2 separate regions of the Homo sapiens genome follow, and region 2 is linked to region 1. Evidence: fine-mapped expression QTL. A gene starts in region 1. The other region holds a variant in brackets. All regions are shown on one strand. Distances are between the middles of the regions. Region 1 holds the start of CDC25B (cell division cycle 25B). Region 2 overlaps AP5S1 (adaptor related protein complex 5 subunit sigma 1).

Evidence for each region.
Region 2: its variant is fine-mapped to the expression of CDC25B in whole blood (INTERVAL, PIP 0.98).

What each region holds. Positions count from the first base shown.
Region 1 is chr20:3,791,401-3,800,207 of GRCh38, forward strand. It overlaps CDC25B (cell division cycle 25B), which reads left to right and starts at 4,910. Exons shown (of 16, transcript NM_021873.4): 1 at 4,910-5,331; 2 at 6,222-6,349; 3 at 7,012-7,063. The coding sequence starts at 5,132. RefSeq lists enhancers at 3,906-4,637, 4,548-4,707, 8,062-8,356 and silencers at 4,938-5,007, 5,048-5,227, 5,294-5,501.
Region 2 is chr20:3,827,425-3,836,231 of GRCh38, forward strand. AP5S1 (adaptor related protein complex 5 subunit sigma 1) reads left to right here. Exons shown (of 3, transcript NM_018347.3): 3 at 1-1,414. Among named protein-coding and RNA genes, the nearest start is that of AP5S1, 11 kb to the left of the region's middle. RefSeq lists an enhancer at 3,552-4,052. The variant T/C (reference allele first, on the strand shown) is at 3,362.

The DNA.
Region 1 (8,807 bases):
TACTGGGTGTGGTGGCTCATGCCTGTAATCCCAGCACTTTTGGAGACTGAGGCTGGTGGATCGCTTAAGCCCAGGAGTTCAAGACCAGCCTGGGGAACATGACAAAACCCAGTCTCTCCAAAAAATACAAAAATGTGCCAAGCATAGTGGGATGCGCCTGTAGTCACAGCTACTTGGGAGGCTGAGGTGGGAGGATTGCTTGAACTCAGGAGACAGATGTTGCAGTGAGCCGAGATTTAACACTGCCCTCCAGCCTGGGTGACGGAGAGACTTGGACTCAAAACAAAAACAGAAAACAAACTAAATGCTGTGCCTCCCATCAGTTCCTCCCTAGGAATTCATCTTGTAGATAGCACACAGACACATAAGGGCATACTTACTGCATCGTTGTAAAAGCTAATATCCTAAATGTTCAGCATTAGGGGCTTGAGTAAATATATATTGTTATGGTACTAATATGGATCCATCTCCAAGTAAGAAGAAGAAAGGTATAGAACAGTGGTTTTTATTTTTATTTATTTATTTATTTTTGAGACAGAATCTCACTTTGTCACCCAGGCTGGAGTGCAGTGGCACGATCTTGGCTCACTGCAACCTCCGCCTCCTGGATTCAGGTGATTCTCCTGCCTCAGACTCCCAAGTAGCTGGGATTACAGGCACATGCCACCATGCCTGGCTAATTTTTGTATTTTTAGTAGAGACAGGGTTTCACCATGTTGCCCAGGCTGATCTTGAACTCCTGACTTCAGGTGATCCACCTACCTTGGCCTCCCAAAGTACTGGGATTACAGGTGTGAGCCAGCATGCCAGCCTAGAACAATGTTCATATGCTGTTTGTATATTCTTTAAAATACAGACGGATTTACGCTTGTAAAGATATAGACCTGCAGCCACTAACCCTAAGTGGCCATTGAACTATTAATTTATTTATTTTATGTTTAGAATCAAAGTCTCACTCTGTTGCCCAGGCTGGAGTGCAGTGGTGGAATTATGGCTCACTGCAGACTCAAACTCCTGGGCTCAAGCTATCCTCCTACCTCAGCCTCCAGAGTCACTTGGATTTTTTGTTTGTTTGTCTGTTTTTGAGACGGAGTCTTGCTCTTTTCGCCCAGGCTGGAGTGCAATGGCATGATCTAGGCTCACTGCAACCTCCGCCTCCCAGGTTCAAGCGATTCTCCTGCCTCAGCCTCCCGAGTAGCTGGGATTTCAGGTCGGTGCCACCAGGCCAAACTAATGTATGTATTTTTAGTAGAGACAGGTTTTCACCATGTCGGCCAGGCTGGTCTCAAACTCCTGACCTTGTGATCCACCTGCCTCGGCCTCCCAAAGTGCTGGGATTACAGGTGTGAGCCACCGTGCCCAGCGAGTCACTTGGATTATAGGCAGGGGCCACCACACCGGGCTAAGTTTTTAAAAAATGTTTTGTAGAGACAAGGTTTCACCATATTGCCCAGGCTGGTCTTGAATTACTAGCCTCAGGCAATTGTCCTGCAGCAGGCTCTGGAGTTGCTGGGATTATAGGTGTGAGCCACAGTGCCAGCACTATTGAGCCCTTTAAATGTTGCAAGTACAAATTGAGATGTGCTGGGGGTGTAAAATGCATACTAGTTTGAAGACTTGATATCCAAAAATGTAAAATATCTCATTAATTTATATTGATAACATGTCGAATAATATTTTGAATACATTACATTGAATAAAATATTACAGTAATTTCATGTTTCTTTTTTACTGTTTTAAATGTGGCTACTAGAATATTTTAAATTATGTATGTGGGCCAGGCGCAGTGGCTCACGCCTGTAATCCTAGCACTTTGGGAGGCCGAGGTGGGTGGATCACCTGAGGTCAGGAGTTCGAGACCAGCCTGGCCAATATGGCAAAACCCTGTCTCTACTGAAAATACAAAATTGGCCAGGAATGGTGGCGGGCACCTGTAATCCCAGGTACTCGAGAGGCTGAGGCAGGAAAATCGCTTGAACCCAGGAGGCAGAGGTTGCAGTGAGCCGAGATCATGCCACTGCACTCCAGCCTGGGCGACAGGGCGAGACTCCATCTCAAACAAACAAACAAAAAAACCCAGAACCCCTCTGTGGTCTTGCCCACCTCCCCCCTCACTGGCCCAGAGGTGACCTGACTGTGGGATTTCTGTTTTTTTTTTTTTGGTTTTAGAGAATTTTATTTTATTTTATTTTATTTTTTTATTTTATTATTATTATACTTTAAGTTTTAGGGTACATGTGCACAATGTGCAGGTTAGTTACATATGTATACATGTGCCATGCTGGTGTGCTACACCCATTAACTCGTCATTTAGCATTAGGTATATCTCCTAATGCTATCCCTCCCCCCTCCCCCCACCCCACAACAGTCCCCAGAGTGTGATGTTCCCCTTCCTGTGTCCATGTGTTCTCATTGTTCAATTCCCACCTATGAGTAGAATATGCGGTGTTTGGTTTTTTGTTCTTGCGATAGTTTACTGAGAATGATTATTTCCAATTTCATCCATGTCCCTACAAAGGACATGAACTCATCATTTTTTATGGCTGCATAGTATTCCATGGTGTATATGTGCCACATTTTCTTAATCCAGTCTATCATTGTTGGACATTTGGGTTGGTTCCAAGTCTTTGCTATTGTGAATAGTGCCGCAATAAACATACATGTGCATGTGTCTTTATAGCAGCATGATTTATAATCCTTTGGGTATATACCCAGTAATGGGATGGCTGGGTCAAATGGTATTTCTAGTTCTAGATCCCTGAGGAATCGCCACACTGACTTCCACAAGGGTTGAACTAGTTTACAGTCCCACCAGCGGTGTAAAAGTGTTCCTATTTCTCCACATCCTCTCCAGCACCTGTTGTTTCCTGACTTTTTAATGATTGCCATTCTAACTGGTGTGAGATGGTATCTCATTGTGGTTTTGATTTGCATTTCTCTGATGGCCAGTGATGATGAGCATTTTTTCATGTGTTTTTTGACTGTGGGATTTCAAGGGATTCAATAGTATAATGCCTGCCCTGCCACATACACCCTGTGCAGATGTATATTGGCTGGGTGGGGGGTGGGGGGGATACCTGTTGTGTTTATTTTGAAAATGCAAATCTCGGGGCAGTTTTTTTTTTCTGGTTTTTGGGCTGGGTGGCTTTACAAGGACACTTCCCCCTTCCCTCCTGGCACTAAGGGCAGTCACATCCTCACTGGAAGTAGTGGCTGGAGGTCCAGGGCATAACCCCTGACCCAGGGAGGATGAACCGGAAATTCAGTCTTGCAGAGCCCTCTGCACAGCACAGGAGCTGGGCAAAATTTGGAGAAAAGGAAAGGTCACGTTCCCACCTTGGCCACCCCTCTCAGGTGGGGCTGGGGTCTTCCCCTACCCTTCAGATGCATTGGCCCACCCAGCCCCCCATCACCAGGCCCTCCCTTTTGCCACCCCCATCCAATGCACCTTGGGTCTGGGTGGCTGGGACTGCACGAGAAGGGGTACTCCTGCCTTGCTGAGCTGCAGCCCGCCCCCCGCACCACCACCCGCCCAGCCAGAGGCCACTTCTAACCTGGGGAGACAGGATGCGAAAGCTGCTCACTACCCACCGGCTTTTGGGTGCAGCCTTCAGGCCTCTTGTTCCAGGAGGCCTGGAAAACGAGCGGGGCTGGAAGGCATTTAGATAATTGGAAGATGGGCCGGGCACAGTGGCTCGTGCGTGTAATCCCAGCACTTTGGGAGGCCTAGGTGGGTGGATCACGAGGTCAGGAGTTCGAGACCAGCCTGGCCAATATGGTGAAACCCCCGTCTCTACTAAAAATACAAACATTAGCTGGGCGTGGTGGCGCGCTCCTGTAGTCTCAGCTACTCGGGAGGCTGAGGCAGAAGAATCGCTGGAACCCGGGTGGCGGAGGTTGTAGTGAGCAGAGATGGCCACTGCACTCCAGCCGGGTTGACAGAGGGAGACTCCATCCCAAAAAAAACAAAACAAAACAAAAAGAAAGATAATTGGAAGCTGCTCCGCTTAAAACGAATGACAAATTCAGCCTCCCTGGTCTGGTCATCAAAGAAACACCAATTAAATAATATGGTGCCATTGGCACCAAGTTAGCCAAATCATCAATGGGCGTGATACTTAATTCGCCTCTCTGGTTGCTGACACCCTCCTCGACCCCCAGCCGCGGAAATCCATTCCTAGTTCCACCGTTTAGAGCCTCTCCTGGGGCTGCCGCGAAAATTGGGCCGGTTGGGGTAACATCTAACCTGGGGTCCCGCGAAAGAGCCCATCAGTTCCGCTTGGGGGCCCCACTGCCCTCCCACCTCCTACGCTGGGCGCTTCTCCTGCGAATGACGTTTTGCTGCTGCTCAGCGCAGCCAGTCGCGGAGGCGGGGAGGCTGCGCGGTCAGAGGCGCCTGGAGCGAGCGAATCCTGGCCCACCGCCTGCCCAACCGCGTGACCTTGATTGAGTTAATGAACTTCACGCCTCAGCGTCCAGGTCTGTAAAATGGGGTGTCTAACGCAGACCGTACAGCCCAGCTGGGTTTAGCAAACTTCCGGGAGCCAGTTGGAGCCTCTCCCCATCCCTAGCGGTGATCCCAGGTGACGACATGCCGCGGGGGGTCCTGCGGAGGCCACCCTAGGGCGTTGCTGCTGCCTTTGGGAGTGTGGAGCTCCAAACCATGTCGCGAGAGGCGGATTTTGGGAGGCCGGGATCCTCGCGCCAGGGGGATGTGCGAGGGTGTGGGATAAATCTTAATTCCTCCGGCCCACCCAAAGCCTGGAAATCCAGCCTCCGCGCCTCTTGCCCTGCGGGCCCCGCCCTCAGTCCCGCCCTCATCTAACCCGCTACCCCATTGGTGGCGTCCGGCGGCGCGGCTGCTGTTATTTTTCGAATATATAAGGAGGTGGAAGTGGCAGCTGCAACTAGAGGCTTCCCTGGCTGGTGCCTGAGCCCGGCGTCCCTCGCCCCCCGCCCTCCCCGCATCCCTCTCCTCCCTCGCGCCTGGCCCTGTGGCTCTTCCTCCCTCCCTCCTTCCCCCCCCCCCCACCCCTCGCCCGCTGCCTCCCTCGGCCCAGCCAGCTGTGCCGGCGTTTGTTGGCTGCCCTGCGCCCGGCCCTCCAGCCAGCCTTCTGCCGGCCCCGCCGCGATGGAGGTGCCCCAGCCGGAGCCCGCGCCAGGCTCGGCTCTCAGTCCAGCAGGCGTGTGCGGTGGCGCCCAGCGTCCGGGCCACCTCCCGGGCCTCCTGCTGGGATCTCATGGCCTCCTGGGGTCCCCGGTGCGGGCGGCCGCTTCCTCGCCGGTCACCACCCTCACCCAGACCATGCACGACCTCGCCGGGCTCGGCAGGTAGGACACCCCAAGGAGGCTGCATATGGGGGTGAGAGGCTAGGTCTGGAGTCCTGGGCCTCCTGGAGAACTGGGCATGGTAGTCGAATCCAGGAGGTGGAGTCCGGGGAGGCATCCTGAGCAGTGGAGAGGTACGCCCTTGTTCCCTCCTAGGGGCCCAGGACATGGGAAGTGAGACCTGGGCTGTGCCCCCCACACCTCCAGGTGACCTGCTCTCAGTCTGCACAAGCCTCTCCAAATCTTCTTTCCCCTCACTCCCTCCTCCCTCATTGTGCCTCCACCACGCTGCCTCCGTAATCTCTGCCCGGATAGCCACCATTTTGCCCCAGGATGGGAATCTCAAGCCTGGAGAGGGAACTTAAGGGTGGCAGAGCCGTGGAGCACTCACACATCCATGCCCCTGCTCCCTCCACCCCAGTTCTGCCCCCAGAATTAAGACAATTAATTAAACACTGATCCTGCTCCCTAAGTCTGCAAGGGGAGAGCTGGGTTGTTCCAGTAGGAGAACCTGGTCTTGGTCCATCCTTCAGGAAGGGTCCTGGAAAGGTGGGGGTCTGACAGTTTAGGGGAAGGCTCTCTGGGGCGGCTCTGCTAGACCACCAACCCTTAGGCTGGCCTCCAGCCAGGCAGCCTTGCTCACACCCTGGGCTCACCTTGCCCTGCTCCTGAGAGGACCTTTCCTAAACCAGTCAACGAAGAGAAGACGCTTTAGGGCCTCTGTAGAATGAACCTTCCTTGACCTGAGAAGAGGGGGCCCTCAGGGCCATTGCTTTCCCGGTGTAGTGTTTCGCTCAGTTCTTTTCTCAGCAAGGGAGTGGGAACGTGGGCTAGCCAGGCCTTGAGCCCCACGTTTACCTTTCTCCTTTCCCGGGTCCCTGTTCCCTTCCCAGCGAAACCCCAAAGAGTCAGGTAGGGACCCTGCTCTTCCGCAGCCGCAGCCGCCTGACGCACCTATCCCTGTCTCGACGGGCATCCGAATCCTCCCTGTCGTCTGAATCCTCCGAATCTTCTGATGCAGGTGAGGCCCAGGGGAGCCTGGGGAGATCTGCCTGTGTCAGGAGAGTTTGTGGGGGCTGCCTGGGCCTCCCAATTTCCCTGCCGATCAAACTAACATCCTCCCCACAACCTGGTGGGCCCAGGAGCCTCTCCCCCACCCTCCACAGAAATGGGAGGAAGACACACCTCTTGTGGGGCTCACCACACCCAACGCGGACTGGCTGAGTGGATGAGAGGGTGGGGCCCTCTACGGAGATGAGATCTTACCTATGTAAAACCACGCTCCAGAGTTCCTAAACCACAACCCTACCTGGGAAGCACCCAGGGCTGAGAGTTGGTCTTTAAAACATTCTTAGCCTATAACCTCTTCTTTAAAAATCTGTTGTCTCTTCTAGAACAAATTATTTTAAACCAGTTCAAGAAAAATGCTTAGTGAGCATTGTGGTTTAAAGACGCATATGAAGGAATTTCCATAGTAAACAGGGAGTGGAGCCCTGTACCGTCTGGGGGACGATGTGTCAGCTCTCAGGGTCCATGGTTGGGTTTTTGTTTCATTTTCTAATGTGTCAAAGTCCAAACTAGAAACTGTTTTTTTTTTTTTTTTTTTTTTCATATTGGGACATGGTGGGGGAAAGAATACAGAAAGTGCCACTACTTTCAAACCAAGGTGCTCTGTCCCCTCAGGTCTCTGCATGGATTCCCCCAGCCCTATGGACCCCCACATGGCGGAGCAGACGTGAGTAGAGAAGGGAATGTGTACTTCCAAGCATTCAGCACCTGTCTTTAAGAATCCTAGTTCTACCATAAATTCACCCGGGAGGCCTGGGAAAGCAGACAGACCATGGGGTGGCTTCAGGATCCCCATGGCCGGGGGGCTCACTGACTTTCTCAGGCCTTGGCATTCTGCTCCCTGTCTCAGAGAAGGATCTGCTCTCATGGGAGCCAACCGAGTGTGGGCTCAGGGCCAGGGATAGTGGGGACAGTGGCCACTGGGAGAGCAGATACTAGACTACAGCCCATGTCTTGCAGGAATACAAGCCCAGCGTATGTCCCGTTTTTCTTTCTTGCCTATACCCATTTTTTTCTGTGAAATATTACAATTTAAAAATATGATCCAACTAATTCAAAACTTTAACTCACTCTAGGCCAAACAAAACACAGTTGCCTGCAGATTGATTTGGCTCTTGGCCGATCAGCAACCTCTGACTTCGATGACACTTTACCCTCTGGCCAGCCCTGGTCTAGGCCCTTTCTGCAAGGGAATGGAGAGAGAGTTGGTGGGCTCTGGCCTGGACAGACCATCCCCTTGGCTGTGGGCATGGGTGGTGTCTTCCAGAGCACAGCTGTTCCCATCCAGTTGTTAAAGCCCAAGCAGCGGGGCAGCTGCCAGCCATTAGTAGGGACAGCTGGGCATCTCTGGCCTGTGCTGGGGACTGTGGCTTTGGGTTTAGGATAGTGACTTGTCTTACCTCCCATTGCCTTTGATCAGACTGGGTTGGGCTGCAGATTGGTTCACAAACAGGAAATGGGGAGAGGATTGGGTGGGGTTGGGGGACTGCAGGTTGGTTTTGGTGGCAGCACAGAGCAATCTTGCCCTACCCCCAAGGCCCATGTGCAAGCCAATGAAATTGGTCATCCCTGATGCCAGGTTGGCTGGGCACAGCAGCCCCCCGGGGGGGCATCCCCCTCATACTTTATCCCTGAGTGGTTCCCTGCCCTGCACCTGCTCTGACAGTTATACAGAGTTTCTCAGAAGCTGTGTGTGTGTGTGTGTGTGTGTGTGTGTGTGTGTGTGTGTGCGCGCGCGCGCGTAGATGCACAAAAGCTCCGCGTGGCAGGTGGTCTCCTGTAACACGGCTGAGGGGGCGGGGCCTCAGAGGGAACATGTGTTGGAATTCCTTGCCTGCTGGCCTCTTCTAAGGCAGGAGGAGGGGGTGGGACAGAGGCTGGTCCTGGAAAATTCCATAGGAGGGAGGAGAGGATGTGAGCCTGCACGTTTGTCACTGGGGGTCTACTGTATCAGACTGGAGCTGACTGGGGGAGCCCTAAAGCAGGCCCCAGTCCTCAGAGGACCGGGAGCCAGGCCAGCTCCTCACAGGGGAGAGGAAGCCTAGCCTTGCTGTTGTCCAGGCCCTGGAGACACCCACATTGCTGGGTGCCCCTGGCCTATCATAGGATGGATGGATGCCTTTCCTGGCAGCCATATGGCCCCGCTGAGGTGATTTGCATACAGGTGGAAGGCCTGGTGCAGGCTGGCGAGACTGTTGCCTTGGTGACGCCTCCCTGACCCTGACCTGCCCCAGCTGTCTCTATCACTGCCATTCTCTGGGCTTTCTTTCATTCAGGGCAGCCTTTAAAATTCCAAGCTGCCTCTTATCTTCCCCCTCCCCAATACCTGGGCCCCCTGATGGTGGGCGTTCTTCCCACCCCACCCCTTCCACTGCCTTGAGCCTTGGCCCTTGTCTTTGCCCTTACTCCCC
Region 2 (8,807 bases), 36 kb after region 1:
TTAAGTTTTTCTATTTTTAGTAGAGACGGGGTTTCACCGTGTTAGCCAGGTTGGTCTACATCTCCTGACCTTGTGATCCGCCCGCCGTGGCCTCTCAAAGTACCGGGATTATAGGCGTGAGCCACCACGACTGACTGGCATGAAGTCACAGGTTTTAAGGCAGGAACTGGCCTGCATGTATGTGGGTCACTGATTGGGTCACATACACTGCATGTATGTGAGCCCTGGGATGGGATTGGATCATCTTGTCTCCTTTAGGGCAGGGTGTTTTTTTCTAGCCCTGTGGTGCTGCGCACTGTCCAGCATCCCCCCAGGGCTCAATGTTTTCTTTTCTTTTTCTTTTTTTTTTTTTTTTGAGATGGAGTCTCACTCTGTTGCTCAGGCTGGAGTGCAGTGGTGCAATCTTGGCTCACTGCAACCTCTGCCTCCTGGGTTCAAGCAATTCTACCGCCTCAGCCTCCCAAGTAGCTGGGATTACAAGCATGTGCCACCATGCCTGGCTAATTTTTGTATCTTTAGTAGAGACAGGGTTTCACCGTGTTGGCCAGGCTGGTCTCGAACTCCTTACCTCAGGTGATCCACCCATATTGGCCTCCCAAAGTGCTGAGATTACAGGTGTGAGCCACCATGCCTGGCCTCAATCTTTTCTTTTAAACAATTATTCCTATATTTTATTGTAATGCAGTTAACCGTGTTTGTCAGATTCAATACTCTGTGACCCGTTAACCAAGTCTCTGTATGTTTATTACTGCAATTCAAGTGGCCGTGACCGTTTTCTTAAATATACTTTATTTGTTTAGTGCAATTTTAGGTTCACAGTAAAACTGAGCAGAGGGTACAGAGAGTTCTCATTTACTCCCTGTCCCCACACATGCACAGCCTCCCTTATCACCAACACTGGGCACCAGAGTGGTCATTTGTTACAACTGATGGACCTTCATTGACACGTCACTATCACCAGAGTCCATAGTTTACATTAGGGTTCACTCTTGGGGTGGTACATTCTATAGGTTTGGATGTATTTTCAGTGACATGCATCTACCATTATAGTATCATACAGAAGAGTTTCCCTGCCCGAACAGTCCTCTGCTGCACCTGTTCATTCTTCCCTCCCCTCAACCCCTAGCAACCATTGATCCTTTTACTGCTTCCATAGTTTTGCCTTTTCCAGAATGTTGTGTAGTTAGATTCATACTGTATATGTAGCCTTTTCAGATTGACTTCCTTCACTTAGTAATGTACATTTAAGATTCCTTCAAGTCTTTTCATGGCTGAATCATGAGCTTGACAGCTCATTTTGGAAGTACTGCTGAATAGTATTCCATTATGTGGATGTACATTATCTGTTCACCTACTGAAGGACATCTTGGTTGCTTCCAAGTTTTGGCAATTATGAATACAACTGCTACAAACATTTGTGTACAGGTTTTTGTGTGAACATAAGTTTTCAACTCCTTTGGGAGTATAAATACTCATAAATACCAAGGAATATGAGTCCTGGATTCTGTGGTAAGAGTATGTTTCATTTTGTAAGAAACTGCCAAACTGTCTTCAAAAGTGGCTGTACCATTTTGCATTCCTGTTGGCAGTTAATGAGGGTTTCTGTTGCTCTACATCCTCTGAAACATTTGGTTTCGTCACTGTTTTGGTTTTGGCCCATTCTTTTTTTTTTTTTTTTTCCTGAGACGGAGTGTCCTTTGTCATCCAGACTGGAGTGCAGTGGCACTATCTCGCCTCACTGCAACCTTGACTGCCCAGGTTCAAGCAATTCTCCTGCCTCAGCTTCCCGAGTAGCTGGGATTACAGGCGTGTGCCACCACGCCTGGCTGATTTTTTTTTTTTTTTTTCTGAGACAGAGTCTCGCTCTGTCATCCAGGCTGGAGTGCAGTGGCACAATCTCCACTCACTGCGACCTCCGCCTCCCGGGTTCAAACCATTCTTCTGCCTCAGCCTCCTGAATAGCTGGGACTACAGGCACACGCCACCGCGCCTGGCTGATTTTTGTATTTTTAGAAGAGAGAGGGTTTCACCATATTGGCCAGGCTGGTCTCAAACTCCTGACCTGAAGTCATCTGCCTGCTTCAGCCTCCCAGAGTGCTGGGATTACAGGCATGAGCCTCTGCACCCGGCTGGCTTTTGGCCATTCTAATAGGTATGTAGTGAAATCTTGTTTTAATTTGCAGTTCCCTAATAACATGACGTAGAGTATCTTTCCTATGCTTACTTGCCATCTGTAAATCTTTAGTGAGGTGTCTGTTCAAGTCTTTTGCCCATTTTAAAACAGGCAACTTGTTTGGGTGATTTCTTTTTGTTGAGTTTTAAGAGTTCTTTGTGTATTTTGGATAACAGCTCTTTATCAGATATACCTTTTGCAAATATTTTCTCCCAGTCTGTGGCTTGTCTTCTCATTCTCTTGACAGTGTCTTTCACAAAGCAGAGCTTTTTAAATTTAATGAAGTCCAGTTTCATATAATTTAATGAAGTGGGCCGGGCGAGGTGGCTCATGAGGCCTGTAATCCCAGCACTTTGGGAGGCCAAGGCAGGAGGATTGCTTGAGCCCAGGAGTTCGAAACCAGCCTGTACAACATAGAGACTTCATCTCTACAAAAAAATATAAAAATTGGCTGAGTGTGGTGCACACCTGTGGTCCCAGCTACTTGGGAGGCTGAGGTCGAAGGATTGCTTAAGCCCAGGAGGTCAAGGCTGCACTGACCTGTGACTGTGCCACTGCACTCCAGCCTGGGTGACAGAGCAAGACTTTGTTTCCAAAAAAAAAAAAAAAAAATTAATGAAGTTTGTCAATTTTTTTTTTTTTTTTTTTTGAGACGGAGTTTCTCTCTTGTTGCCCAGGTTGGAGTGCAATGGTGCAATCTCGGCTCGCCACAACCTCGCCTCCCGGGTTCAAGCAATTCCCCTGCCTCAGCCTCCTGAGTAGCTGGGATTACAGGCATGTGCCACCACCCTTGGCTAATTTTGTATTTTTCGTAGAGACAGGGTTTCTCCATGTTGGTTAGGCTGGTCTCGAACTCCCGACCTCAGGTGATCCACCCGCCTCGGCCTCCCAAAGTGCTGGGATTACAGGCGTGAGCCACCATGCCCAGCTCTTTGTCAATTTTTTAAATGGATCCTGCCTTTACTGTTGTATTTAAAAAGTCATCACCAATCCAATATCATCTAGATTTTCTCCTATGTTATCTACTAGAAGTTTTACAGTTTTGCATTTTACATTTAGGTCTATGATCCATTTTGAGTTCATTTTTGTGAAGGGTGTAAGGTCTATGTGTAGATTCATGTTTTTGCATGTGGATGTTCAGTTGTTCCAACATAATCTCTTGAAAAGAGTCTTTCTATCTTTGTTCCA[T/C]TGTATTGCTTTTACTCCTTTGTCAGAGACCAGTTGACTGTATTAATGTGGGTCTCTCCTGGGTTCTTTATTCTGTTCCATTAATCTGTTTGTCTATTCTTTTGCCAATACTACACTATTTTTTTTTTTTTTTTTTTTTGAGATGGAGTCTCACTCTTACCCAGCCTGGAGTGTAATGGTGCAATCTTGGCTCACTGCAACCTCCACCTTCCAGGTTCAAGCCACCCTCCCGCCTTAGCCTCCCTAGTAGCTGGGACTATAGGCATGCACCACCATGCCTGGCTAATTTTTCTATTTTTGTTAGAGATGGGATTTCACCGTGTTGGCCAGGCTGGTCTCAAACTCCTGACCTCTGGTAATCTGCCCACCTCAGCCTCACAAAATGCTGGGATTATAGGCATGAGCCACTGTGCCTGGCCACCACACTATCTTTTTTCAAGGTTTTTTTTTTTTTTTTTTTTTTTTTTCTGAGAGAGAGTCTCACTCTGTCGCCCAGGCTGGAGTGCAGTGGCGCAATCTCGGCTCACTGCAAGCTCCGCCTCCCAGCTTTACGCCATTCTCCCGCCTCAGGCTCCTGAGTAGCTGGGACTACAGGCGCCCGCCACCACACCTGGCTAATTTTGTTTTTGTATTTTTAGCAGAGACGGGGTTTCACCGTATTAGCCAGGATGGTCTTGATCTCCTGACCTTGTGATCTGCCCGCCTCGGCCTCCCAAAGTGCTGGGATTACAGGCGTGAGCCACTGCACCTGGCCCACTATCTTGATTACTGTAACTTTATAGTAAGTCTTGAAGTCAGGCAGTGTCAATCTTTAACTTTTTTCTTCATATATATATATCTATATATATATGTGTGTGTGTGGTGTGTGTGTGTGTGTGTGTATATATATATATATTTTTTTTTTTTTTTTTTTTTGGAGACAAGGTCTTTACTCTGTCACCCAGGCTACAGTACAGTAGTGTGATCACAGCTCACTGCAGCCTGGACCTCCCTGGCTAAGTGATCTTCCCACCACAGGCATGCACCACCACACCCAGCTAAATTTTAAATATTTAGTAGAGACAGGGTCTTGCTATGTTGTCCAAGCTGGCCTTCAACTCCTGAGCTCAAGCAATCCTCCCACCTTGGCCTTCCAAAGTGGGTAATGTGGTTTTAATATCAGATTGCACTTGGCTGGGCACAGTGGCTCATGCCTATAATCCCAGCACTTTGGGAGGCCAAGGTGGGTAGATCATCTGAGGTCAGGAATCCGAGACCAGCCTGGCCAACATGGCAGAAACCGTGTCTCTACTAAAAATACAAAAATTAGCCAGGAGTGGTGGTACATGCCTATAATCCCAGCTACTTGGGAGGCTGAGGCAGGAGAATCATTTGAACCTGGGAGGTGGAGGTCCAGTGAGCTGAGATCATGCCACTGCACTTCAGCCTGGGTGACAGAGTGAAACTGTCTCAAAAAAAAAAAAAAAAAAAAGCTGGGCGTAGTGGCTTACTCCTGTAATCCCAGCACTTTGAGAGGCTGAGGCGGGCGGATCACAAGGTGAGGAGATCGAGACCATCCTGGTTAACACAGTGAAACCCCGTGTCTACTAAAAATACAAAAAAATTAGCTGGGTGTGGTGGTGAGCGCCTGTAGTCCCAGCTACTCGGGAGGCTGAGGCAGGAGAATGGCATGAACCCGGGAGGCGGAGCTTGCGGTGAGCCGAGATCGCGCCACTGTACTCCAGCCTGGGCAACAGAGTGAAACTCTGTCTCAAAAAAAAAAAAAACAAAAAAAAACAAAAAAAAAACATTGCACTTGCTGATTGCTTGTATAAGTGAAAGCAATTGACTTTTTTTTCTTTTTTGAGACAGGGTCTCACTCTGTTGCCCAAGCTGGAGTGCAGTGGCGCAGTCTTGGCTCACTGCAGCCTGTGCCTTCTGGGCTCAAGTGATCCCCCCACCTCAGCCTCCCAAGTAGCTGAGATTACAGATGTGCACCACTATGCCCAGCTAAATTTTTGTGTTTTTAGTAGAGACGAGGTTTCACTATGTTGGCCAGTCTGGTCTCAAAATCCTGATCTCAAGTGATCCACCCACCTTGGCCTCCCAAAGTGCTGGGATTACAGGCGTGAGCCATCGTGCCTGGGCACCATTTTTTTCCTTTTTTTTGAGACGGAGTCTCGCTCTGTTGCCCAGGCTGGAGTGCAGTGCCACCATCTCAGCTCACTGCAACCTCCACCTCCCGGGTTCAAGCGATTCTCCTGCCTCAGCCTCCCGAGTAGCTGGTACTACAGGTGCGCACCACCATGCCCAGCTAATTTTTGTATTTTTAATAGACACGGGGTTTCACCATGTTGGCCAGGATGGTCTCAATCTCTTGACCCAGTGATCCACCCACCTCAGCCTCCCAAAATGCTGGGATTACAGGTGTGAATCACCACACCCGGCTGAGTTTTTCTTTTTTTAATAGAGATAAGGTCTTCCTACAGGGAGGTTGCCAAGGCTAATCTCAAACTCCTGGACTCAATAGATCCGCCTGCCTTGACCTCTCAAAGTGCAGGAATTACAGGCATGAGCCACTTCGTCCAGCTTAGCAATTGACTTTTGTATATTAATGTTGTGTCTTGCAATCTTGCTGTAATGCTTATTCGTTCCAAGAGTTTTTGTTGGTTTGTTTTTGTTGATTCTTTCAGATTTTCTACATTAGCTAGGACTTTTGGTACAACATTGAAAATGAGTTGTTAGGACATTATTGCCTTGTTCCTGACCTTAGTGGGAAAGCTTCCAGTTTCTCACCATTAAGTATGATTTTTGTAAATGTTCTTTATCAACTTGTGAAGTTCTCTTATTTCCTAGTTTGTTGAGAGTTTTTATTGTAAATGGTGGTTGGACTTTGCCACATGCTTTTTCTGCTTTTATTGGTATGATAATGCAATTTTACATCGTTAGCCTGTCAATGTAATTGATTATCTTAATTGATTTTCAAATGTTGAACTAGCCTCACATACCTGGAATAAATCCCGCTTGGTCATTTTGAGTAATTATTTTTATACATTACTGGATTTGATTTGCTACTATTTTGTTGAGGAGTTTTGCATCTATGTTCACAAGAGATACTGGTCTGTAGTTTCCTTGCTTCCTTCCTTCCTTCCTTCCTTCCTTCCTTCCTTCCTTCGTTCCTTCCTTCCTTCTTTCCTTCGTTCCTTCCTTCCTTCCCTCCGTCCCTCCTTCCCTCCCTCTGTCAGGAGTCCAAGACAAGGCTGGCCAACATGGCAGAAACCACGTCTCTACTAAAAATACAAAAATAAGCCAGGAATGGTGGTACACGCCTGTAATCCCAGCTACTTAGGCGCAGTCTCGGCTCACTGCAATCTCCACGTCCCGGGTTCAAGCGATTCTACTGCCTCAGCCTCCTGAGTAGCTGGGATTACAGGTGCACACCACCATGCCTGGCTAATTTTTGTATTTTTAGTAGAGACGGGGTTTCACCATGTTAGCCAGGCTGGTCTCGGACTCCTGACCTCAAGTGATCCACCCACCTCAGCCTCCCAAAGTGCTGGGATTACAAGCGTGAGCCACCACACACCTGGCCATCACTTGCTTTTTTCACTCACCAGTGTATCCTGGATATTTTTGTCATAGCACTACAGAGACAGCATCTGTATTCTTTTAAGTTCTTATCCATCATGTGGCTAGATTATAGTTAATTTAGCAAACCTAAAAGTTATTGTGAACTACCATATTTCACATTTACAAAAAGGTGCTTAGAATTATATAATGAGCATCCAAGTACCTGTCATTTCATTTAAGAAATAAAAACCAGCTGGGTGTGGTGGCTCACGCCTGTAATCCCAGCACTTTGGGAGGCCGAAGTGGGCAGATCACCTGAGGTCGGGAGTTTGAGACCAGCCTGACCAACATGGAGAAACCCTGTCTCTACTAAAAATACAAAATTAGCTGGATGTGGTGGTGCATGCCTGTAATCCCAGCTACTTGGGAGGCTGAGGCAGGAGAATCACTTGAACCCGGGAGGCAGAGGTTGTGGTGAGCTTAGATCGCGCCATTGCACTCAGCCTGGGCAACAAGAGTGAAACTATGTCTCCAAAAACAGAAACAAAAAAGAAATAAAACCCAGCATTACCTCATTATTTTAGGCTTTTATTTTCATGAACTGTTTCCTTCTGTTTTCATTTAGTATATCCATACCTCTTTAGGGGTGCTTAAGTCATTTGTTTGCAGTCTTAGAAAATGACATTAGTCTTTAAGTTATGAATTTTCCTATGATACAGCTTTAGTTGTATCCCATATGTTCTGATGTGGTGTTTTCACTGTTGACATTTTCTAGAAATCTGTAGTTTCACTTTTTTTCCTTCTTAATTCCCTATTTTTACATGACTTCGTGAGAACAATATTTTTGAGTTCTTGTATGTTAAAAAATTATTTTTGGCTGGGCACGGTGGCTCATGCCTGTAATCCCGGCACTTTGGGAGGCCAAAGAGGGTGGATCACCTGAGGTCAGGAGTTTGAGACCAGCCTGGCTAACATGGTGAAACCCTGTTTCTGCTAAAAATACGAAAAATTAGCTGGGCGTGGTGGCACATACCTGTAATCTCAGCTATTTGGGAGGCTGAGGCAGGAGAATCACTTGAACCCAGGAGATGGAAGTTGCAGTGAGCCGAGATTGCGCCATTGCACTCCAGCCTGGGTAACAAGAGCGAAACTCTGTCTAAAAAAAAAAAAATCTTTTTAGAGCCTTTATACTTGATCTTTCTGCCTGAGTGCCCCAAAGATTCATCTTTACATTTCAGTAACATTATTAGAATGTATCTCATAGTGCAAACATAGTGTGTTTATTCTTTTTTTTTTTTTTTTTTTGACGGAGTTTCGCTCTTGTTGCCCAGGCCGAAGTGTGCAATGGCTCGATCTCGGCTCACCGCAACCTCCACCTCCCAGGTTCAAGCAATTCTCCTGCCTCAGCCTCCCGAGTAGCTGAGATTACAGGCATGCGCCACCATGCCCGTTTAATTTTGTATTTTTAGTAGAGATGGGGTTTCTCCACGTTGGTCAGGCTGGTCTCAGACTCCCGACCTCAGGTGATCCGCCCGCCTCGGCCTCCCAAAGTGCTGGGATTACAGGCGTGAGCCAACACGCCCGGCCCATACTGTGTTTTTTCAAAAGTAGATTGAAGTCCTTTTTTACTTCAGAAGTATTTTCCAGAATTATATCTTATTTTTATTTGTTTTTGAGACGGAGTCTTGCTCTGTCGCCAGGCTGGAGTGCGGTGGCGCAATCTCAGCTCACTGCAGCCTATGCCTTCAGAGTTCAAGCGATTCTCCTGCCTCAGCCTCCTGAGTAGCTGGGACTACAGACACACACCACCATGCCCAGCTAATTTTTGTATTTTTGGTAGAGACGGGGTTTCACCATGTTGGCCAGGATGGTCTCGATCTCTTGACCTCTTGATTTG